7 linked regions of the Homo sapiens genome follow. The protein of the gene in region 1 purifies or fractionates together with the protein of each later gene. This does not show direct contact. Each region holds a gene or a part of one and is shown on either strand. Other genes may lie near its edges.

Region 1 (3,500 bases):
ATTTCTGTGGGGGCGGGGCCTGCGGGTAGGGAGGCTTGTTCTTGGACGGAGCTGGAAAAGTCTGCGCAGAAACGAGGTGTCTGGCGTGCGCGACGCTCCCTCTCTTTTGGATGGGGGCGAGGATACCTGGCTACTCCAGCCCAGAGGGTCTCTGGTTTCCCTGCGAACCCCCTTCCCTGGTGGGGAGGAGCCCTGGACCGAAGGAGAACACACCTGGTCTTACTTGAGGCTCTGCCATTATCGTGGCACTTTGAGCACGGGCCCCTCTTCTAAGCCTCAGCTTCCGAATCTATTCAGTGTAGTGGTTAGACGATCTCAGAATCCCTTCCTCCCTCAGATTCCCTCTCCCTTCTTCTTTTCACCTCTTGGGCGATTTTGCCCGCCCAGACTTGACATTGGGGCGGGGCTGGGGGGAGAGCCGCAGCGGCTGTGTCTCGACGTCTCTAATCGCCGGCATGCGTTTCTCTGTTTGCCTCTGCAGCCGTGCAGCACGAGCGGGGGCCTCGGACGTCCACCATCCGCAAGCAAGTGGCCCTCTACTTCCGTGGACACAAGGAGGAGAACGGGGCCGCCGCGCACTTTCCCTCGGCGGCGCTCCCTGCGCCGGCCTTCTTCACCGCGGTCACGCAGCTGGAGCCGCACGGCCTGGAGCTGGCCGCGGTGTCCACCACTCCAGAGCGGCAGACCCTCGTGAGCCTGGCTCAGCCCACGCCCAAGGTCAGCGGCCTTGCTGGGCCCAAAGAGACTCGTGCCAGCGAATGGAGAGGGACGCACCCAGTTCTTCTGAGCTGTGTGATTGGGGTCAGGCAAACTGGGGAGAGAACTCCAGGGTGCTTGGCGGGTCTCTGCATGGAGCTCCAGCCCTTCTGCTCTCCCTTGTTCAGCCAGGGGTGCTCAAACTTGAGTGTACAGTAGAGTCAACCTCCGAGTGGCTACAAGTGTGCACTCCGGATCTTATCCCCCCAGAAATTTCATTTCAGCAAGTTTGGGGTGGAGGCCAGGAACCTGCACCTTTAGGAAACACCCACTGGTAATGGGTGGTGGGTGGAGACCTCGTCTAAACCCAGAGGGCAGCCTCAGGTGTTCCTAAAGACCAGAAGAACCAACGTTCATTTTTAGAGGAGAGGAATTGGCTACAGCTGGAGGAAGGGCTCCAGAATTCCAAATCTTGGCATGTATGATCTTGGGCAAAGCCATGAGTTTCTAACGCAAGTGCGAAATGTGGAGATCACACTGTTAGAACAGTTTGAGGAATCTGAGTTCATTTCCCATGCTCCCCTCACCTACTTCTGAGGCAGGTGGATTTACAGCAGGGTTGATTCCATAGGAGCAGGGCCACAGCCTGAACCACCTGGAAAGGCTGCCACCTAAGGCCTACCCTCCAGGCCTACAGCTGATACCTACTAACACCCCCACTCCAGGCTGATGAGGGCCTAGGATCTCCCTCAGAGGAGGGCCAGCTGCAGCCCCACACTGCAGGGAAGCCAGACACCTGGGCACATGCACACGCACAATATTTAATATGGCTTTCTTACCCTTGATGTGTATAATAAGCTCTGGAAAGTAGTGTTATGAATATGTTGTCAGTTATGAATGGGAATGCTCTGTGAATGATTAAGATGTCTAATTGAAATATTTCCATAATATACTAATCCTTTCTAAAAATACTCATATGCATATTTGTGTTTGGGATGCCTATTAATTTATACTTTTTCACATCTATTTTTATTTACACAAATGCAAGCAGCTCTTGTCTAAATTGGGAGCCAGGCTTGGCACTTGGCTCAGCCCAAGGAAAATTTGCTGCAGGGGATAGAAAAGCCAGAGGGCCTTCTGGAAGGGAGAGGCTCCCAAAGAGTGGAAATGGACCTCCCCCAACCAGTATTACTTTTCAAACTCTATAGACAGCGATGTTTGATTTTTTTACCCACCAATGTCAACTGCATGTTTAAACAAAACATCCAAATTCTTTTTTATCCCCTTCCTTGCTTTAATTAGAAATTAAAAGTTTGGTTCTTCTTGCAAAGCTGTGGTTTCCTCACTTCCAGGTGTCTTTCTTTCTTCCCTACCCAGTACCCCCATGAAGTGAATGGGACCCCAATGTATCTCTATGAAGTGGCCACGGAGTCGGTGTGTGAATCAGCTGCCAGACTTCTCTTCATGAGCATCAAGTGGGCTAAGAGTGTGCCAGCCTTCTCCACGCTGTCTTTGCAAGACCAGGTATGACCACACTGAGGCCTTGGGAGAAAGAGAGCTGGGAAAGAAGCAGTAGCACTCAGCCTTATAAAACTTCCTCTATCCCTGGGTAAACCACCCAAGGCAGGCATCCATTCTTAATAGCAGTGAGGAAACTACTTGTTTTTACTTGCTTCTTCCTGTGGGTTCAAAATATCTACCTATATGATCCTTAGTAAGAAACGTAATTACATTATTTCAGAAAGGATGGGTCCAGTCTGTGAAAACACACATACAAGAACATTACCTCTTTTTGTTTGATTGGAACAGCAAATATAATCTCAAATTTTAAAATTGTAATGATTTTCTAAAACTGTTGATGAAACAATGTTTTACTAAGAACATTGGAACTGAGAGAAGTAGAAGGTGGTAAGAGTATGCCCTCATGAGATTTTTCAGAACTGATGTTATTATTTTATATTCCCAGCTTTATATTCTCCATTGCGATGCTCCCAGTTTTGGTCATTAATTGATAAGCATGTAAAACCAAAGGGCACAGTGCACACCTCCTGTAGGCTAGGTTCTTCCTTGATTCTTCATGTACTTTTAGACATTTTGTAAACAAATAGGCATTTTGCTTAATTCCGTGGTTGTAAATGACATTCAGGGGAAGAAAAAGTGTGTGCAGTGAAACATTGTATTGTACTGAGACCCAGAAATTTTGTTGATAGGAATATTAGAAATGCTAACATTTTTCTAACCTTAAAGGAAAGAAAGAAAATAAAGTGTTCCCAACCATTGGCTGTTACCAGTGCATTCACAGGAATTAATGACAAATTTTCCAAAGGCTAATAAGTAGTTCTAAAAGCAAAGGATTTATTTCTTCAATTCATTTCATACCTAATTAAAGCATAATAGTGCCCCTTTATATGAAGTATGTTTCCTACGGAAAGATCGGGCAATGTGCTAAAAGCATTTCATTTTCTAGCATGAGATGTTCTTGTTTTCATGGCCTGCCCTTTCAAATATGGCCAGAATTAAATATTGTTTACCTTGCATTTTATAATTATTTCCTGTACTTGATGGAATAAAACTAAAAATAAAACATTAAAAAAATTAAACCCTTTGGTCTAATTGTGATTTTGGTTACAAGCCTTCATGATTCAGCTCTTAGCTCCCAAAAGAAATCCTTTTACATAAATCATTTAGAGTTGACTGGCTTTTGAGTTTTGAGATTTTTAAAGGTAGTTAGGTCCTATCTTTGACCAGGTTTACTGGTTAGCTCTAACCACTTCCTGTGTGTGTGTGTGTGTGTGTGTGTGTGT
Region 2 (3,004 bases), on another chromosome or scaffold:
CTAAGAAAACTATGCGTAAAATATGTCTTTTTTTTTTTTTTTCTTCAGAGACAGGATCCCGCTCTGTCTCCCAGGCCGGAGTGCAGTGGCACGATCATAGCTCACTGTAACCTCAAACTCCTGGACTCAAGCGATCTTCCTGCCTTAGCCTTAGCCTCCTGAGTAGCTAGGACTGTAGGCATGTACCACCGCGCCTGGCCTGTGTCTATTTTATCATTCAGATTAATTTAATTTTGTATTTTCTGGCTCAGATGAACTTAAAGAAGCATCAAACATTTCTTTTTTATGAAATGTTAAATTTAATAGCATCACAGGCCGGTAAAATATATTCAAGTAACAGAAATATCAAAGTCTTTTGGCCACAATAAACTGAACACTTTATGAAAGCATACTCATCATGGATCACTTTGAAATATACGAGATCTCAACATTCAAAGTGAGAAATAAAAAGCCTTTATTAAAAGTAGTGCTAGGAAACAGAGAAAATAAGAATAAAATTTACCCATTTGAAATATGTGATTTTCAGACTCTAAATGAATACAGAGTTTGACAGTGTGATGTTTACAATAATGTCTTTTCTTTAGAATATCTGGATTATGAAAGCAAGCACTTTTTTCATTAAAAAAATTATATACTAGGAAAAACTGTCATAATAGTATTAATGTGGGGAATTTTGATTATGAAATTCAGGGATATATTACTGCCCGTGGTCTGTGTCTTCAATATTGTAAGCAGCAGCCATCATGTAATTTCAGATTAATACCAATTTTGTTCCCTGATAGATGGAGCTTAAACAGTATATGCTGCTTTAAATTTCTACCTCTAGCAGATCTTTATTGGAGGGAGTTTTCCTTTGTATTTTTTAATGTATGATATTCTGTTTCCAGTAGCTTGGAAAGTAGAGATGACTAATGTTTTAGCCTTTTCTTGGAGAAAAGGAAGAACTCTTCTTGAATATTTTCACAGATGATTGTGATTGCTTTAAATGACCTCTGTGGCAATTTAAATTAGATGGATTTAATCTCAGTAATGTGCTGGTCGCATAAATGTCATGTTTTAATAGGAAAAGTTACTTGTAAATCTTTAGACCTTTGTTGTCACTTAGGCTGGGGAGTCACTACCCTATTTGGCATCTTACTAGTTGGGGGGACCTTTTCCGTGTACAGTGATGGGACTTTTGTGACCTTTACTCTCACTATGCAATAGAGGGTTTCATGTAGTTAATCTGACATGTCAAAATTGGGAAGACTGTAACCTTTTTTTTTTTTTTTTAAGATTTCTCTTTTTTGTGTCCCTCAATACTTAGCAGATGTTCATTTGGTGGAAATTCTTATTACTTACATGAATGAGTTTGAATTTAGTGGCAAGGAAGAAAAAAAAAACTCAAATTATTGTTTTAAAAGAAGAAAACTTGCAAAGTACATAAGTATTTTTTAAAAATCAATCGAACAGAAAGGAATGCATGCTGTTTTTCAATGGCTTAGACATGCTTTTTATTCACTGACTAGTATTCACTTTTTTACAACTTGTATCAAAACAAATGATCTTTGTTTTTGTCACAGGCAAAAACAGGTTGACACTGGTGGGTTGGCTTTATTAATTAATTTTTTTTCTATTAGGTTTTCTTTAATAATGTTAAATTTCTAAATTATAGCATATGTTTTAGTTAATTCTGAAATCAGTTACTTCATTTGTTAATTTATCCCTCATATCATGAATATTGTTTTTTAAATGTTCTATACAAATTTGCATCACTTCTTTTCTTACAGCTTTTGCAGTTAATATATTCTAAACTTGAAAATGTGGTATCAATCAATAATAGAAGTATCACTGGAGGATTTATTTAGCTTTGTATTTCTTAATTTTAGTCCTAGCTACTAAAGTATGTAAGCCTTAAAGTTTAAAATGTTTTTCTTAAATTAGCTTTATACACAAACATTTTCATTTACTTTATGAAATGGGAGGAGATAGTCCACTGTGCTTATGTTTTTTTGTTTAATTTCTATATTCTGAAGCAGTGCAGATATAGGGTATGCTAATCAAGTGAGCAAGGTGGAACATGTACAATATAAGGAGAAGCTGTAAAAATCACAGTATAAAATTATGAAGTTTGGTAACTGTAAAATGTACTGTATTTATATGTAACTCTCATTCTAAAAGTTGCCACAAAAGCTGAATTGGAAGCTTCATGTCTGCATGAAATTTCCTATATTTTTAATGTGTATGATGAAATTAATTTTTCTTGAATATTAAAGTCTGCCAATTGCTATGAAACGATAGTTGCTTGGTTTTCATCTAAATTAATGTAACTATAGATGTGGGGATTTTAATGAGTTGAGCATATATACTTTTGAACTCTTGGATTAGCCTATTTTTATATGCTTCTAAGAAGTCAGTAACATGAATACTTCGCCTTATAATATGCCAGGCCTTATACTAACTATTTTCACTTTGTTTCATTCAAGTTCACTGTAATAAAGTTAGAATCCATTGAGGAAAATGAATAATCTTGATTTTCAGTTTTGTTAAATAATGGAAAAAGAACTATAAAAGGAACTAGTAGAAGACAGTTCTAGGACCAGCCATCAGTGGGATGAGCACTTAGATCTTCTGGGTTCATTTTCCTGAATGATTGTGATCTCAGGCAAGCCACTCTTTGGCTTATTTCCTCATCTGTAAGAGAGGATTAATACCATCTATTTCAGATGGTTTATTAGGTCATATGAGCTTTTATATATATTTTTGTGTGTATGAAAGCACATGATAGACGATTACCATAAATGTAATTTCAGTCTGTGTTGACTGCTATATAGTGATGGAAAAAATGAGGATTGTTAACAGGACATTAGTTTTAATTATCTTACAGTGACCCTTTGAAAAAGATTTCCGTGGAATCCTGGGGAAAACAGTAAAAAATGGTAGGTACAGATACAGATTCCAAAAGTTTGTTGGGAATTATAATGAAGTATAATAGTAGGTAATGGGTGAGGGCATAAGTAAAATT
Region 3 (2,879 bases), on another chromosome or scaffold:
CCCAGAAGTTCGAGACCAGCCTGGGCAACATGGTGAAATCTCGTCTCTACAAAAAGAACACAAAAGATTTGCCGCTAGTGGTGGTGCACGCCCGCAGTCCCAACTGCTCAGGAGGCTGAGGTGGAAGAATCACTTGAACCGGGGAAGTCCAGGCTGCCATAAGCCGTGATCACACCACTGCACTCCAGCCTGGGTGACAGAGTGAGACCCTGTCTCAAAAAAAGTAAATAAATAAAATCAGGACCGAATTTAGGATGTCACCACCAAATCCCACTTTAAAGAGCTCGGTAATACTTCACACTTAAAAAAGGAAAGGTCAGGACAAATAAAAGAATGACCAGCCTTAACTCCGGGGCTGGTAATTTATGGAACTTATTACCTAACGGTGTTGCACAGGCTGAAAATACAACTTTTCTAAGAAAGATGTGAATAATTGCAGTATACCACTCCTACAATGGGTTAATAAGAAAAACAAGAACGTTTGTAGGCATGTGGGTCTCTATTATCCTCAAGGTTAACTTCAAGGAGGAAAACCGCACCCGCTGATACAGTGTTTCTAGGAGCTCGACGAGAAAAGGCAAACTGCGAGCCTTCTCGGGACGCCCTGTTCCCACCACAGCCCTTCACACAATGCGTCTAACAGCATTTAAGGAACACCCGCCACGCCAACGATCCTGCTGGAACCGCCCAGTTCAGGGAACAGGGGACGACTGACCAGAAGGCAACCGCCCCCAACCTGAGCAAAGAGCGCTGGAAACCTATTCCCCCCTCCCCCTACACCCCCCCGCCCCCCGCTCCACTACGGGACCCTCGGCTCGAATTCTTTTAGTGCAGGACCACCTTAGGACTCAGCCTCCCTAAGGAGAGGAAAAGTGGGGGAGGGAAGGGGACTCTGGAGGAGCAAAAGCAAGAGGCCTGGGGGCGACTGGGGTGGGGCGTCTCCTAGAGCGAGGATTGCTGCAGAGTGCGCGTGCACGCCCGCACATCCACACCCACGGCTACACATCATATCTGCACACGCACAAAACCACACACCCTCCCACGCCGGTCCCATATCCTTTCTGCGGGGTGAGCAGCAGATTCCCGGAAAGGGGGAAATGTAGCCGCAAAAGCAAAGCCGGGGGCCTGGCGCCCACTCTGGCGGCGACTACAGCCCCCACGCTGGGCACACTGCGAGCTGGGGGTGCCCGGCGCGGGAGAAGCCGCGCCCAGCCGGGCTGGTAGCCCAGCGGGGGGCGCGGCAGGGCGAGGAGCAGCCCGCGCTGCTCCCGCCCCTCGGGTGCCAGCACCGCCCCTGCTGCGGCGGGTGAGGGGCGGGGCGGGGCGCGGCGTATATAAGGCTAGGGGCGGGCGCCGCTCTTTTGTTTCTTGCTGCAGCAACGCGAGTGGGAGCACCAGGATCTCGGGCTCGGAACGAGACTGCACGGTGAGTGCGGCGCCGGGGCGGGGGGCCCACCCAGGGTGTGGTCGGATCCGGTGCACCGGGCGGGCGCGCCGCAACCGCGACAGGCGCCCTTCTCGGACCGGACGCAGGGGCCGGCGACCACGCCCTGGGACCGAGAAGAGGGGTGCGGGACGCGCCCAGATCCTCGGCCTTGGGGCTGCTCGGCACGCCTTGGCGCGAGTGCCACGTCGAGAGGCGTCGGCGGGGAGCGCGGAAGGGGACGCTGGCCCCCAGGCCCAGGTCAAGCGCCTTGGTTTGCCCACTAGGATTGTTTTAAGAAAATGGCAGACAAACCAGACATGGGGGAAATCGCCAGCTTCGATAAGGCCAAGCTGAAGAAAACGGAGACGCAGGAGAAGAACACCCTGCCGACCAAAGAGAGTGAGTGTGCCTCGGTCTCCCGCGCCCCAGCCCAGCCCCTCACCCTGCTCTTCCTTGCAAACCCACTCCTCCACCCCCCACCCCGCCGTTGTCCCCGGTGTGGGCGGCCCCGGCCACTCTTTCAGTTTCACAAAGCGCCTTGTTTCTCCCCAGCCCCAAGCTTCCTTCTAAATCCCCACACCTCGTGGGTGCCTCGCCCACACCGGGAAGCACCTCGGTTGCGGGTGGGGGTTGCAGCTCCCCTCCAGCGCCCGCTTCCCGCTCTCCACAGCCATTGAGCAGGAGAAGCGGAGTGAAATTTCCTAAGATCCTGGAGGATTTCCTACCCCCGTCCTCTTCGAGACCCCAGTCGTGATGTGGAGGAAGAGCCACCTGCAAGATGGACACGAGCCACAAGCTGCACTGTGAACCTGGGCACTCCGCGCCGATGCCACCGGCCTGTGGGTCTCTGAAGGGACCCCCCCCCAATCGGACTGCCAAATTCTCCGGTTTGCCCCGGGATATTATAGAAAATTATTTGTATGAATAATGAAAATAAAACACACCTCGTGGCATGGCTGGCGTGGTCTGAGTCTTTTAGTTGAGTATGCGTGGGCAGTGCCACTGCAGCAAAGCCCCTCGATGGAGTAGAGTTCCTGCCGCAAAGGGGAGGAGGTGGGTCGCAGAATGGGCTGACTCGGAGGGAGTTTTTAATTTTGGCTTTACCTGCTTCTCCGTAAGATTTCATGACTTGTTAGCCACTTAACTCTTGCTCGTAAGCAATCTGTGTAAAATTTAACCCCACTTTGTCCCCAGGTTGCGTTGGAAAATGCTTTTTCAAAAGAGCAAGGTTTGCTTTTGATAAGCTTCGAAAGCCCCACTGTTTCCCTCTGGCCTCCTCCTAGCTGACTCAGAAGGGAACACTGATTTTAAAGAAAGAAAAGACAATCTGGAATGTTGGAAATTGGGTGAGGTCACAAAGTCTCCGGAAGCCTTTCTTCGGGAGCTTAAAACAAAGGCGGGATCTAGGGATACAGCAACGGGAACGTCAGAACTAGAAGAACCAACACTAGAA
Region 4 (4,258 bases), on another chromosome or scaffold:
GACGCGCGAATTCTGCTGCCCGAGCGCCCTCCGTCAACGCGCTCCGCCTGCCCGGGTCTGCGCGCCGCCAGTGCCCCCGCGCGCCCTGCCCGCCCAACGTCGGCGCGGAAGGCAGGGCGAGGAGTCGCCCAGGCTGTGACACGCACAAGGCAGGGAGCCACAGAAAAGGGAGCCGGAATTGCTACTTAGTCCAGGAGAGGTGGCTCACCCCTGTAATCCCAGCACTTTGGGAGGCCAAGGCAGGCGAATCACTTGAGGTCAGGAGTTCGAGACTAGCCTGACCAACATGGTGAAGCCCCGTCTCTATTAAAAATACAAAAATTAGCCGGGCGTGGTGGCCCGCGCCTGTAGTCCCAGGTATTCTGGAAGCTGAGGCGGGAGGACCACTTGAACCCAGGAGGCGGAGGTTGCGGTGAGCCCAGATCGTGCCACTGCACTTCAGCCTGGGCGACAGAGTGAGACTCCGTCTCAAAAATATAAATAAATAAAAAATAAATAAAAGAATTACTACTTAGTAGCCAAGGATTGTTACGGCGCGGGGATGGGGGGATACAGCGGTTGTTAAGGGGGTTCTTGGGGGCAGGACCATTTTAGGTGCAGGATAAGGGAGCAGGGCTCTGTTTTCCTCTCCTTTTCTTTTTAAAATTTTTACTTTTTTTTTTTTGACAGCTCTTGCTCTGTCGCTCAGGCTGGAGTGCAGTGGCGCGATCTCAGCTCACTGCAGCCTGTGCCTCCCGGGCTCAAGTGATCCTCTTGCCTTAGCCTCCCGAGTAGCTGGGACTACAGACGCCCGCCACCACCCTGGCTAATGTTTGTATTTTTTGTAGAGAGGGATTTCGCCATTTTGCCCAGGCTGGTCTTGATCCTCCAGCCTCGGCCTCCCAGAGTACTGAGATTACAGGCGGAAGCGCCCGGCCCCTAGGGCTATTTTTTGATAATTGGCCTCGACCCTCCTCACCTACTCCTTCCTTAGCCAAATCTACTGAGAAAAGACTTGGAGGGGGACTCTCCCTCCACCCCTCCGTGGGCAAACTCCTGACGGACTGTAAGACCTTGGCCGCCCTCTCGCCTGGCCTGGGTCCCTCGAATGAATGTACATCCGCCAACTGCGCGCCCCCTCTCACCGCAGCCCCGCGCGGGGCCCCAGGATCGCAGGACCGCGGCGGCCGCAGGGAGGTGGGTTGGGAACAGGAAGGAAGTCCCCCTCGATGCCCCGCGGGATGGCTGACCCTTCCGGGCGGCAGACGGACCTTGGTCTCCGAGCCTCCCCTTCGCGATGCGGAGGACGCGGGACAGAGGGTATGAGCCGCCCAGGACCCCCTCGCACCTGCTAGCGCCCCGCAGCCGCCCCCCAGCGTGACTTGTGCACTGGGCGGGCTCGGGTGGCGCGGCCGGAGGCGCCTGGACCTCCCGTCCCCCAGAGGGCGCTGCCCCGGCCGGCCCCGCCCGCATTTGGGCCTTACGAGCCCACAGGCCCCGGAGTAGCAGCGGGGAGGCCGGGAGCCCGCGGGCCGGAGCCGCCCGGCCGAGGCGTGGGGGCTGCGGGGCCGGCCCATCCGTGGGGGCGACTTGAGCGTTGAGGGCGCGCGGGGAGGCGAGGTGCGGGGCCGGGGGCGGCTGGGTCGTGGGGCTCCGCCTGCGAGCTGGCTGTGTCTGCGGAGGAGGCGGCTGGCGGGGTGGGAGCGGGCGGAGTGGGGCGCGAGGAGGTGGCGGTGGTGGAGAGAAGCCGTCCCACGGAGCTCAGGACCACGGTGACCGGGTTGGACGGGTGCCGATGTTATTGACACCCGGGGGCCCAGAGAGGGTTGCGGTATTGAAAAGGGGCTGTGAGTGAGGAAGTGATGGGCGCAGAGAGAGGCTGAGGCTGAGGGTGGGAGGATGGAGCCGCCAGAAATGGAGAGATGGAGGGACTTGAAGGAGGGGCTGTTGGCAGTGTCTGGGGGGCATTGGCAGGAGGGTGGTTGAATCTTGCCCCTAGCAGGACTGGAGGTAACTTGGAAGGATGGGCCAAGCGAGTGTGGCAGGCTCTTGGCAGGACTGGGAATGCAGCTGTGAAGCTCCTCAGCAGTCTCTGCGGGCTGTGGCTGCGGGGAGTGGCGGTGGATGGGAGGGGAGCAGGCCTGACTTATGGTGGGGACCCCTTGCCTCACTCTGCTTTCTGCCCCTAGCCACCATGTTCAGCCAGCAGCAGCAGCAGCAGCTCCAGCAACAGCAGCAGCAGCTCCAGCAGTTACAGCAGCAGCAGCTCCAGCAGCAGCAATTGCAGCAGCAGCAGTTACTGCAGCTCCAGCAGCTGCTCCAGCAGTCCCCACCACAGGCCCCGTTGCCCATGGCTGTCAGCCGGTGAGTTCCCCTCTCGGGCGCGATGGCTTCAGCCTTGCTACTCAGACCCATGTCTCGGAGCTCCCGATCCCCATCCTTTTTCCCAGTGCCATCCCCGTTTGAGTCCTGGAGATCACCAATTCCAGCCCCAAGGGGTCCTCTGTCTACCACAGAGTGGGGCAGAGAATGGAGGTGAGAAGCCTTGGGGAAGAAGGAAGGTCTGACTTTCCAAATAACCCTCTGACACCCCCTCCCAACACACAGGGGGCTCCCCCCGCAGCAGCCACAGCAGCCGCTTCTGAATCTCCAGGGCACCAACTCAGCCTCCCTCCTCAACGGCTCCATGCTGCAGAGAGCTTTGCTTTTACAGCAGTTGCAAGGTATGGATGGCCCCAGGCCTCTTCTCAGTCTCTTTTAGTGGTAGCTCCCTAGCAGCGCATTGCTCTAAATCTCAACTCCACACAGCCACCCTGAGAGGGAGCTATTCTTGGCATCCTAGTTCACTCATGAGGACACTAAGGCTCCAGGAGGTGAAAGTCCCTAAGCTGCTAATTTGAATGCAGATCTGTCTGATTGCAGAGGTGTGTCCTTGGCCATGGTGCTGGCTCTTTGGGCAATACTCAGCACACTTCACTCACATTCAGATTAGATGCCATCTGACAGGTGAAGAAGCTAAGAAGGGAAATCATTTGCCCTGCATCAGCAGTGGCTAAGCTGGGCCGATGCCTGGGCCTCTTGACCATCCAGATGTCTGAGTGGTTGTCTCTAGCCCTGTGCATTAAGTCTGTGGCCTTGTCTCAATTTCCCAATATGGAGAGCAGTCTCAGCTCTTCCTTCCAAGATGCTGCTCCTTTTTTTTTTTTTTTTTTTTTTTTTTTTTTTTTGAGACAGAGTTTTGCTCTGTCGCCCAGGCTGGAGTGGAGTGCAATGGTGCAATCTTGGCTCACTGCAACCTCCGGTTCCCGGGTCCAAGCAATTCTCCTGCCTTAGCTTCCCGAGTAGCTGGGATTACAGGTGCCCGCCACCATGCCCAGCTAATTTTTGTATTTTTAGTAGAGACGGGGTTTCCCCATGTTGGCCAGGCTGGTCTTGAACTCCTGACCTCAGGTGATCCACCCGCCTTGGCCTCCCAAATTGCTGGGATTACAGGCGTGAGCCACTGCGCCCAGCCAAGATGCTGCTCCTGATTCTACTGATAACCCCCTAAGGAGAGGTACAACCATGATCCCATTTTACAAATGAAGAAACTGAGGCCCAGAGAGGGGTCATGTGCCCAAGATTACATAACAAGTCGGTATTGATTAGATGGTTGTCACTCTGTGGACCTGTCAGGGCCACATGGATGTGGTCCTGGGAACTGACTTAAAAATGATAAGCAGGTAGGTAGAGAGAGAGAACCATACACAGGGACCTGCCACATATACATATACATCTTCCTTTTTTTCTTTCCCATTTAAAACATTACACCCTTCAGCCATGGGTTGTGGCTCACGCCTGTAATCCCAGCACTTTGGGAGGCCAAGGCAGGAGGATCACATGAGTCCAGGAGTTCGAGAACAGCTTGGGCAACATGGTGAAACTCTGTCTCTATTAAAAATACAAAAATTAGGCTGGGTGTGGTGGCTCACACCTGTAATCTCAGCACATTGGGAGGCCGACCGAGGTGGGCGGATCACGAGGTCAGGAGATCGAGACCATCCTGGCCAACATGGTGAAACCCCGTCTCTACTAAAAATACAAAAATTAGCTAGGTGTGATGGTGTGCACCTGTAGTCCCAGCTACCCAGGAGGCTGAGGCAGGAGAATCACTTGAACCTGGGAGGTGGAGGTCGCAGTGAGCTGAGATCGCGCCACCGTACTCCAGCCCAGCAACAGAGCGAGACCCTGTCTCAAAAAAAGAAAAAAAAAATTGGCTGGGCGTGGTGGCGTGCGCCTG
Region 5 (3,500 bases), on another chromosome or scaffold:
TGCAAGCTCTGCTTCCCGGGTTCACGCCATTCTCCTGCCTCAGCCTCCCGAGTAGCTGGGACTACAGGCGCCTGCCACCGCGCCCGGCTAATTTTTTTTTGTATTTTTAGTAGAGACGGGGTTTCACCTTGTTAGCCAGGATGGTCTCGATCTCCTGACCTCGTGATCCACCCGCCTCGGCCTCCCAAAGTGCTGGGATTACAGGCGTGAGCCACCGCGCCCGGCTGGCGTCGGTCTTTTGCCAGAAACTTCTGAGCGTGCTCTCTAGCTGTGTGTGTGTCAGCCACTGCCTCAGCTTCTCCAGGGCCAGTCCCGAAGCCGTGGGGTATGTGGGTTCTTGTGGGCCGACAGCACTGGACGTTGCTAATTGGTTGGCTGGTTGACAAACCCTTGAGGTTCCAGGGCCTGATGTCTTGGTGAGTGACCTTCCCTGGAAAAAGACCCATGTTGATTTGTGCACTTGAGAGGAGCAGTGTCTTCTGGGGACCTATTTGAAGACAGTAGCCAAGCCATACCTCGAGGATTTTTCGCTTGCCAACCTCAGGGCTAGTGCCTTCCTCTTCTATGCAGTTGCAGCGAGTTGGCCTTGCTGCTTGCTGGAGCGGCGAGGGCAGAGGAGCTGCCCACTGCCCTGTCTGTAGGGCCAGTGTCCCTGTGGAGCGGGCTTGGCACACTGTGGAGCCTGCACAGCGAGGCGTGTGAATCATTTGATTCTAGGTTTCCTCGCTGCCCATGGGCCAGGCAGGCTCCAGGTCCCTGCAGACCCCTCCAGAACAGGGCCAGTGGGGGAAGCACTGTGAGGGTGTGGCTGATGGGTAATCTCCAGTGCTTCAAAGTGTGGTCTTTTTTGGAAAGAGGATGATTGCAGATAGAATTAGGTTAACATGAGATCACACTGAAGCAGAGCAGTGGTGTGATCCAGTGTGTCTGGTGTTTCTCTAAGAAGAGGGAGGAGGGGCAGGGCTAGTAGTCCATATGAAAATCGGAGCAATGCTGCCATAGCCAAGGGATGCCGGGGCCACCAGGAGCTGGCAGAGGCTCCCTAGAGGCTTCTGAAAGAGGATGGCCCTGCTGAGGCCTTGATTTCAGACTTCAGAATGGTGAGAGAATAAACCTCTTGTTCTAAGCCACTGACTTTGTGGTATGTTGTCACAGGAGCTCCACCAGGGAGGTTGTCCATGCTCCAGAGTGGGCTGGATAGCATCTTCCTTTCACCCAGGAGGCACTCTCAGCTTCAGCCAAAGTCCTAGTCTGGGAAGGCACAGTGGGCAATGTCTCTGCACCTCAGCCTGCTGCAGCTTCCCTATGCCTCACTGTGTGGAATCTCCCCATCACCTCTTGTTTCCCTGTCTGCCTCTCTTGTCCTTCCTGTGTGTTCTTGGGTTGGCTGCAGAGCCAGGGTGATGACACTGTTGGAAGCCTTGCTGGGCTGGGCCTCTGCTGGCCACCTGGGGCTGGGCTCTGTGTAGCTGTGTGGGGCTTTGGCCTTTGGGGAGCTGGGCCTTTTAAGGCCAGCTTTTGGGTCTGGCTGACTTTCCCTCTCCTGTAGTCTCAGTTGTGGCAATAGTAAAGCCTCTCTGCAAAGGTGCTTTATCTTTATAGAGTTCTGAGAAGGGTGCCTTATGGATCAGAATCAGATCCAAATAAGGTGGGCCTGGCCAGCCAGCCATGTACCTGGGGCCCTCTTAGGATACCAGACTCCATCCCACAGTGCTCAGGGTGGAAGGGTGCTGTGGGCTCTGGAGATGGGCAACTGGACGGTGAGGTACGGAGCATGTCTTGTACCCGGTGGGTTCCTTGCAGAGTTGAGGTATGAAGTGCTAGGCGAGCTCACAAGAACAGACATTAAGCATCTGGGGAAAGCCAACCGCAGGCCCAGCCATGAAGAGGCCGGTGGGCCTGGTGGGGACTCACAAGCCTCTGCTTTGTGTTGTAGTATTTTAACCACATCAGCATCGAGGACTCGCGGGTCTACGAGCTGACCAGCAAGGCTGGGCTGTTGTCTCCATATCAGATCCTCCACGAGTGCCTTAAAAGGTAGGGTAGGGGGGTGCCTCCCCCCATGAGTCAGGTCGGGGGAGCTCCTCTCTGGCGTCTCATATTCTTGTGGCTGTTTGTCCCAAGGCAGAGGCATGGCCAGGTTTCCCTGGGTACACAGCAGCCCCTTGGCCCTGGCCACCAGTCAGTCCCACAGGCCTGAATCGGGCGTGTGGAGAATTCCCTCCTCTGGCTGAGATGCAGTCTGGGGAGAGGCTTGGTCATTTCCTAAGGGCTTCCCAGAGCAGGCCTCCTCAGAGGCAGCTGGCTGCTCTGCTCAGGGGACGCCATCTGTTGTCTGTTTTCTCTTAAAGAAACCATGGGATGGGTGACACGTCTATCAAGTTTGAAGTGGTTCCTGGGAAAAACCAGAAGAGTGAATACGTCATGGCGTGTGGCAAGCACACAGTGCGCGGGTGGTGTAAGGACTCCTTCTCTGCTGCCTGGTGGCCGCTGGGCGGGCGGCCCCTGGTGTGGCCCTGCGCCTCTGTGGCTTGGTCTCAGCTGTTGCCCTGGCATTGTCCCTGAGCCCAGCTGTGTGTGCTGGCCACCACACGTTCAGCCTAAGGCGGACTGGCAGCCGTCCTGCCTGCACTTTCCCTGTCTTTTCCCTTTCCCCCGCTGTCACCCCTGTCTCCGTCCAGCCCTTGTCCCTGTGGCAGGAGGAAAGGCCCTCCTCCTCGAACAGCCAGCAGAATCCTGCTGCTCCCTGTTTCTGGAGGTGTGCGTCTTGGCGGGAGGGAGGCTCTCGGCTGCGTGGCTTTGAGTGGTAGTGTCCTCAGCTCCTAGACTCTGAGGGCCACTCTCTCAAGGTGGCAGCTGGGTACTGTGAGACTCAGGTGCCCAGAGCAGTGGCAGAGTGCTGCCTATTCCTGTAGAATGTGCCCTGGCTGGCCCTCGGGGTGTGGGTCAGGAGGGCTGGGAGCGGCAGGGGGCCCCATGAGCACTGGGTGTTTGTGACCCCCTCTCCATGCTTGCTCTTTCTCTGTGTAGGTAAGAACAAGAGAGTTGGAAAGCAGTTAGCCTCACAGAAGATCCTTCAGCTGCTGCACCCACATGTCAAGAACTGGGGGTCTTTACTGCGCATGTATGGCCGTGAGAGCAGCAAGATGGTCAAGCAGGTAACTGGCCATCAGCAGGTCCCAGGGCAGCCTGTGCTGCCACCCTGGAGCGTATTCCTGAGGCTCTGTGCTCAGAGGGGGCAGAGCTGGGCAGCTCTGCTGTTGCTCACAGCTGCCTCTCTCCTGGGCCACTTGTGTGGCTTTGTGGGCAGGGGTGGGGTCGTCCCAGCTACATCTCCTATCCCAGCCTGCTGGGCATGGTCAGTGAAGTGTGGGTGATTGGGAACGCAGGCTGGGCCCAGCTATGTGGCTTGTAGGGAGATGGCCAAAGTGCAAGGCAGGGCCAGGCAGGAGATGCTGAAGGTGCGCCCGGCTCGGAGGTGTGCAAAGGCTCAGGAGCCA
Region 6 (2,202 bases), on another chromosome or scaffold:
CACTTAACCCTGGGGCCATCCTTCATGCCCTTCCTTATAGATGCACCACAGCTTTTATCAACAGCTGCACAATGGTCATGGTTTGTCCGCACCGTAACTTATAAAGCCAATCCCTGTTACTGGGTATTTGCACTGTCTTGTTGGGGTGTCGGGGGTGTTTGTTTTTCCTGTTGTCTTTGTGCCCCTCCTGAAGAGCTTTGATGCTTTTCTCCAAGCTGGAGGCAGAAATGGACAGACAGAAACAGATAGCTTGTTCCCTCTGGCTCTCTAAGGCTCATTTTTTAATTATTTATTTTTTTAAAATTTATTTTATTATTTTTTTTGAGACGGAGTCTTGCTCTGTCGCCCAGGCTGGAGTGCGGTGGCGTGATCTTGGCTCACTGCAAGCTCTGCCTCCCGGGTTCAAGCCATTCTCCTGCCTCTGCCTCCCAAATAGCTGGGACTACAGGCACCCGCCACCATGTGTGGCTAATTTTTTGTATTTTTTTTTTTTAGTAGAGATGGGGTTTCACTGTGTTAGCCAGGATGGTCTCGATCTCCTGACTTCATGATCCACCCGCCTCTGCCTCCCAAAGTGCTGGGATTACAGGCGTGAGCCACCGCGCCCGGCTGAATTACTTTAAATCCCTGGGTTCAGATTATGGCTCAGCTGCCCAAGTGACACTCCCCTCCAGTTCTACCTCTGTGAACCTTGGGCCTCGAGGATTTTAAGCTGGTCAGCCAGAGGTTGGAGGTGGAGGTGAAGCAGGGCCCGCCCTCTTTAAAGATACATGCTAAATATTTATATGCAGGTAGACTGCATTGCTAGCTGGGATTTGCTTTAAAACACTGCAGGCCAGGGGAGGGGTCTTGATGAAACAAGATTGGCTGTGAGGTGATCCTTGTTGAAACTGAGTGATGGGTACTTGGGTGTTCATGCCCTTCTACTGGTGCCTGCGTATGACATTTTCCAAAACTGAAAAACAATTGAAGTCCTCTGGCAATGCCAGGCAACAAGAAAATGGGCACTTTTGCTGAGACCCTCATGCCCCTCAGTCCCCCACCCCTCCATCCTTGGGTGGAGACCCCCAGGATCGGGGTTGGGGGATGCCTCTCAGGCTCTCCCTTGCTGGGGGTTGTCTTGACCACAGAGACCCTGCAGAAGTACCTGAAGGTGGTGATGGCCCTCACGTATGAGGAGAAGCCGCCCTACGCCATGCTGAGGAACAACCTAGAAGCTTTGCTGCAGGATCTGCGTGTGTCTCCATATGACCCCATTGGCCTCCCGATGGTGCCCTAGGTGGAATCCAGGTGGGAAGAGCTTGTGAGGCTTAAGCCTCTCACCCCTTGCCCTCACCCGAGCCCTGCCCCAGGCTCCAGGAGACACTTCCCAGAGGCTGTTCCACGTTCATACCAGGGCCCAGCTTCCCAGGGAGACACTGGGTTTTTCCGCACGGTCCTTGAACTTCCCAGCCTCAAGGAATGGCAAGTAGCAGAAACCCGGCTCAACTTGGCTTTAAGAAAAGTGGGGATTGATTGGCTGTTGTAGCTAGAAAATTACAAGGGGGAGCTTCAGGCACAACGGGATTCAGGGCCTCAAAAATAGCATCAAGACGTTGTTTGTCTCTCGCCATCTTCTGTCCCTTCTTGCATCCATGCCTCCCTCTGTCCTTCCACCCGGCCACCTGTAGTCTCTACTTTCCTTTGGCCTGGCCCCCTTGGCGCCCCCATACACAAAAGGTAGCTGCTCCATGCCTTCGGGTCTCGTTCATAGTGCGCACTACCCCTTCCTGTGGATGACGGACACTCCTCACAGCCAGCAGCTGGGCGTTTGCTTAGTTTCCCAGATTTTTATTTTACCAACAGTGCTGCCTGTGTGCACAGCCCGGCTGCTGGCGCACGCTGTCTGTGGATGGAGGTATCAACTTGACAGTGCTGACTAGATGGCTTTACTTCCATCAGCACTTTGTGTAAACGTGCAGGAATTTTTACAAGGTCAAAGACAGACTACACAGTAAATTTTGGCAAGGGTGCAGAGATGTGTGCTGAAGAGGAGCTTCTCCAGGCTCCTTTTCTCTCCCCGGAGTAGTCATTTCTCTCATCGGAGTTGGCTGGAACCAAAGCTCAGTGCTTTGTCTGATTTGGCACCACCCTGGGGGCATTTGGCAGTGTCTGGAGACACTTGGTTGTCAGGATGCGGGACAGTGGAGGCCGGGATGCTGC
Region 7 (3,500 bases), on another chromosome or scaffold:
CTCTAGTATTGTCATATTCTCAGGCTCTCAATTGGTGTTTTTAGATTGGATGAAATATGGTTGTTAGGCTTCTATGTACATTCTTGTCATGAAATTTAAGTAAGTCAGTAAGTACTAAACCAGTCAGCTAATATCCACCCAAATCTTGTATAACTAAGATGTTGTTACCACAAAAATGTTTAATCATAGCCAGACATTTTTAGTCAGTTGCTAAATTTTATTTTATGAAATATGTTCAAGATTTTTGGCATGCAGCATAAATTTTTTAAAAGTTGGAAGAACATTTTTTGGTATCAAGTTTTTAGTTGGAAAAATTGTATTTTTCTGAATTATTCTACATTAATGCAATGCATAACCAATTTAAGCTATTTTTTCCCTCTAAGTGTCAAATTATTTTTGTGTTTGTTCCTCTAGGCTGCTAGTCAGTGCTTCTCAAGATGGAAAATTAATTATTTGGGATAGCTATACAACAAATAAGGTAGAATTTCTTCATAATTCTTTTAAATAACCTTATATTTGTTTGGCTGTTCACCAGTTCTTTCCTTTATTCTTTTACCTCAAACTTAAATTGCTTTCTGAGATAAATTTATTGTTTATTTTAATCTAGTTCTTCTCTTTTGTCTTAGTGTTTACTTTTAATGTTTAACCCTTTTTCATTTCCAAAGATGACTCTATGTTTTACTAGAGGGCTCATATTTAATATATGAATATTAGAAGAGTACCATTTTACATATACTAATAAATGATTTTTAAAAATTCCCATTTCCTAATATGACAAAGACCTTGAGATTTTTATTTCTAGTTTTGGATAAGTTAGATGGCTAGTGGGAAGCTCTTCTTTGGCCCGCTCCAGGCACTGATTTGTGCTTCTGGACTTTTTAGAAGATACAGTAGATTGGAGGTAAATGACAACTTACGTAGATCTCTTGGTGGTAAAAGACTGTGGATGGTCCTAATACATCCACTGGAAGGAATCCCCAGTTTAAAATAGTTGAGTGGTGAAAAAGCTTCAGGAATACTTTGATAAGCTAATACCTTTATACTCTGTGTATACATATTAGTATTTTTATTAAACATTTGAAAATACCATTTTGTGAAATAATAATTTCAACCTGATTGAGATTTTAAAGCTAGCTAAGACAATTTTGTAATATAATAGTTTTTCTTTATTAATCATCATTAAGCACATTATCTTTCAACTATATTTTCATAAAACAAAAAAAATGTATTTTAAGCGTATTATTTTAGGTTAAGTGAGAGCATAGTAGTAATCCTGCCACGTGTTGATTCCCTGTATGGACTGTTTAGCCGTGGTATTCTCATACACCTTTTTTCCATCTGACCTTCAAATGATTGGTGTTAGGGTAACAAGGCAGCAGACAGTGTTGTTTCTAGAGCAATAAAAAACTATCACCATTGTTTGAATGAGATCCCAGAATAAGGGCCTATTAATAGAGGGATGCCAGTGTTGTCTTTTCATGGAAGACTCATGTAATCGACTCTGATACTTGCTAATTATTTCCCTAGTTCTTGTTCAGAGTTATGTTGGAGGAAATTTCTCTTCTGAGCACTATTACAAAAGTGAAAATTCTATTAAAACCTCTAACATTTTACACTTAATTTTTCAAATGGCAGTATATTAACCTTGGAACATCTTTATGTTCATTATTTTATTAAGAGAATTATTTCCAAAAAGAGCACTTTTTGACTCAAATGATTTGATAATACAAAACAATAGGCATTTTAATGTGCGTTAGTGTTGTATTTTTCATGGTTCACTTTCTCAAGCCATTACATTATTTTATTTGACTTATCTTTCTTAGATGTGTTTAATTTTTAATAATATTTACTTCATTGTAAATGGGTTTATGCAATAGATGACTGTTTTTGTAATCTGAGTGATGTGTGGTGTGTGCCCTACAGATGCATGCTATTCCTTTGAGGTCCTCCTGGGTGATGACCTGTGCTTATGCTCCCTCTGGTAATTATGTTGCCTGTGGAGGCTTGGACAACATCTGCTCTATATATAACTTAAAGACCAGAGAGGGAAATGTGAGAGTAAGCCGAGAGTTGCCAGGTCACACAGGTGAGCTTCCCTAAATATTCTTTCCCACCACACGATTCCTTGTGTGGAATGTGCTGATCAAGGACAAATGACAGATTGTGCTCGGCTGGCTAAAGGATGAGGATTAATCGGGTGGGAATGAAATTATTATGAACAAAGGAAACATTAACTTTTTATAGTCATACAAACGTTGATCATAATTTTATTTTTCAAAAATAGCTGTATTGTTTTTGTAAAAAATGATAAATTTACTGCACAAAATTCAAACTCATGAAAAATAAAGCAAATAAAATGTTCTCCATTTTCTGCTGCCATATAACAATTATGGGATTGTGGCATCTGTACTCAATTACATAATTGAAAGTATGCATTAAGGTACATTAGTGAAGTGCTTTTCACCATGATAGTGTATTGCTTTGTTTGCCAGTGTGCCCATCATAGTTCAATAGTGTAGTATTGGGTTAGTGGTGTTAATCAGGAATTTATTGCCACTTATCTGGTATCTATCCATCTGAATTTTTAGCCATACTATTTGACCATGCTTTTACAAAATCTCTAGAATGGTGTTTTTCTGACATTTCCATATTTTGAAACACTGATGAATGCTAAGCATTCAAATGCCACATCTTTCATAAAGTCTTCACTGTTGTTCTTCTGATTTCTTACAATATTTTATTTTTTTAATATTTTTTATTTGAAAAAAAAATTTTTTTAACTGCTCCTTGCAGAGAAGGGCTAACTCATAGGCGGTGCACCCAGAGGCATCCTCTCACAGTATTTTAAAACTATTTCTCCAGGGTGCTTAACACAGTCGGCCATAGATTATAGTTCTTCCCAAGGTAATTGTCTTAGGTGGCAGGGGCTGTGTCTTATTCAATTTGGTAACTTTCAGAGTACCCAGCACAATGTCATTAACATAGTTAATGCCTAAGAATGGTTTGTGGATAAAATTTGGTTTATAGACAATGTAGGATTTGAAGTAACTAAAAGTAGAACTATAGACTATATTGACAAACACTTGTTGCCCAAGTATTCTATTTTTAAAAATATATATTGCTATTTCACATGGTAACTGAGTTATTCAATCAGTGATAACCTAAAATTTGCTACTCTTTATGCTGTAGGGTACTTGTCCTGCTGTCGTTTTTTAGATGACAGCCAAATTGTTACAAGTTCAGGAGATACAACTTGGTAAGTTTATTCCAGAAGCACACTGATTATGGGTTTGAGGGTGGTAGCAGGAACTGACATAAGAAGAAGTAATTGTCATGAAATTTTGTTTTTAATTACAGTGCTTTATGGGACATCGAAACTGCCCAGCAGACCACCACATTCACTGGGCATTCTGGAGATGTGATGAGTCTTTCTTTGAGTCCTGACATGAGGACTTTTGTTTCTGGTGCTTGTGATGCCTCTTCCAAATTATGGGATATTC

The links.
Region 2: the proteins of NR2E1 (region 1) and CARNMT1 purify together in Homo sapiens (affinity purification with mass spectrometry; 3 studies listed by BioGRID and IntAct, with this or other methods). This does not show direct contact.
Region 3: the proteins of NR2E1 (region 1) and TMSB10 purify together in Homo sapiens (affinity purification with mass spectrometry, with the first as the bait; one large-scale study listed by BioGRID). This does not show direct contact.
Region 4: the proteins of NR2E1 (region 1) and CIZ1 purify together in Homo sapiens (affinity purification with mass spectrometry; 3 studies listed by BioGRID and IntAct, with this or other methods). This does not show direct contact.
Region 5: the proteins of NR2E1 (region 1) and DGCR8 purify together in Homo sapiens (affinity purification with western blotting; one study listed by BioGRID). This does not show direct contact.
Region 6: the proteins of NR2E1 (region 1) and VRK3 purify together in Homo sapiens (affinity purification with mass spectrometry; 3 studies listed by BioGRID and IntAct, with this or other methods). This does not show direct contact.
Region 7: the proteins of NR2E1 (region 1) and GNB4 purify together in Homo sapiens (affinity purification with mass spectrometry, with the first as the bait; one large-scale study listed by BioGRID). This does not show direct contact.

What each region holds. Positions count from the first base shown.
Region 1 is NC_000006.12:108,176,022-108,179,521, forward strand, and holds part of NR2E1 (nuclear receptor subfamily 2 group E member 1), read left to right. Parts: intron 1-481; coding exon 482-717; intron 718-2,073; coding exon 2,074-2,220; intron 2,221-3,500. UniProt on the Homo sapiens protein: Orphan receptor that binds DNA as a monomer to hormone response elements (HRE) containing an extended core motif half-site sequence 5'-AAGGTCA-3' in which the 5' flanking nucleotides participate in determining receptor specificity.
Region 2 is NC_000009.12:74,980,290-74,983,293, reverse strand, and holds the end of CARNMT1 (carnosine N-methyltransferase), read left to right. Parts: 3' UTR 1-2,504; downstream 2,505-3,004.
Region 3 is NC_000002.12:84,904,293-84,907,171, forward strand, and holds TMSB10 (thymosin beta-10), read left to right. Parts: upstream 1-1,363; 5' UTR 1,364-1,426; intron 1,427-1,710; 5' UTR 1,711-1,725; coding exon 1,726-1,825; intron 1,826-2,096; coding exon 2,097-2,131; 3' UTR 2,132-2,379; downstream 2,380-2,879. UniProt on the Homo sapiens protein: Plays an important role in the organization of the cytoskeleton. Binds to and sequesters actin monomers (G actin) and therefore inhibits actin polymerization.
Region 4 is NC_000009.12:128,188,773-128,193,030, reverse strand, and holds the start of CIZ1 (cip1-interacting zinc finger protein), read left to right. Parts: upstream 1-1,458; 5' UTR 1,459-1,599; intron 1,600-2,168; coding exon of another isoform or gene 2,169-2,173; coding exon 2,174-2,343; intron 2,344-2,586; coding exon 2,587-2,702; intron 2,703-4,258. UniProt on the Homo sapiens protein: May regulate the subcellular localization of CIP/WAF1.
Region 5 is NC_000022.11:20,104,241-20,107,740, forward strand, and holds part of DGCR8 (microprocessor complex subunit DGCR8), read left to right. Parts: intron 1-1,936; coding exon 1,937-2,037; intron 2,038-2,351; coding exon 2,352-2,458; intron 2,459-3,030; coding exon 3,031-3,158; intron 3,159-3,500.
Region 6 is NC_000019.10:49,978,171-49,980,372, reverse strand, and holds part of VRK3 (serine/threonine-protein kinase VRK3), read left to right. Parts: intron 1-1,130; coding exon 1,131-1,279; 3' UTR 1,280-1,290; intron 1,291-2,202. UniProt on the Homo sapiens protein: Plays a role in the regulation of the cell cycle by phosphorylating the nuclear envelope protein barrier-to-autointegration factor/BAF that is required for disassembly and reassembly, respectively, of the nuclear envelope during mitosis.
Region 7 is NC_000003.12:179,413,471-179,416,970, reverse strand, and holds part of GNB4 (guanine nucleotide-binding protein subunit beta-4), read left to right. Parts: intron 1-414; coding exon 415-478; intron 479-1,923; coding exon 1,924-2,086; intron 2,087-3,189; coding exon 3,190-3,256; intron 3,257-3,357; coding exon 3,358-3,500. UniProt on the Homo sapiens protein: Guanine nucleotide-binding proteins (G proteins) are involved as a modulator or transducer in various transmembrane signaling systems.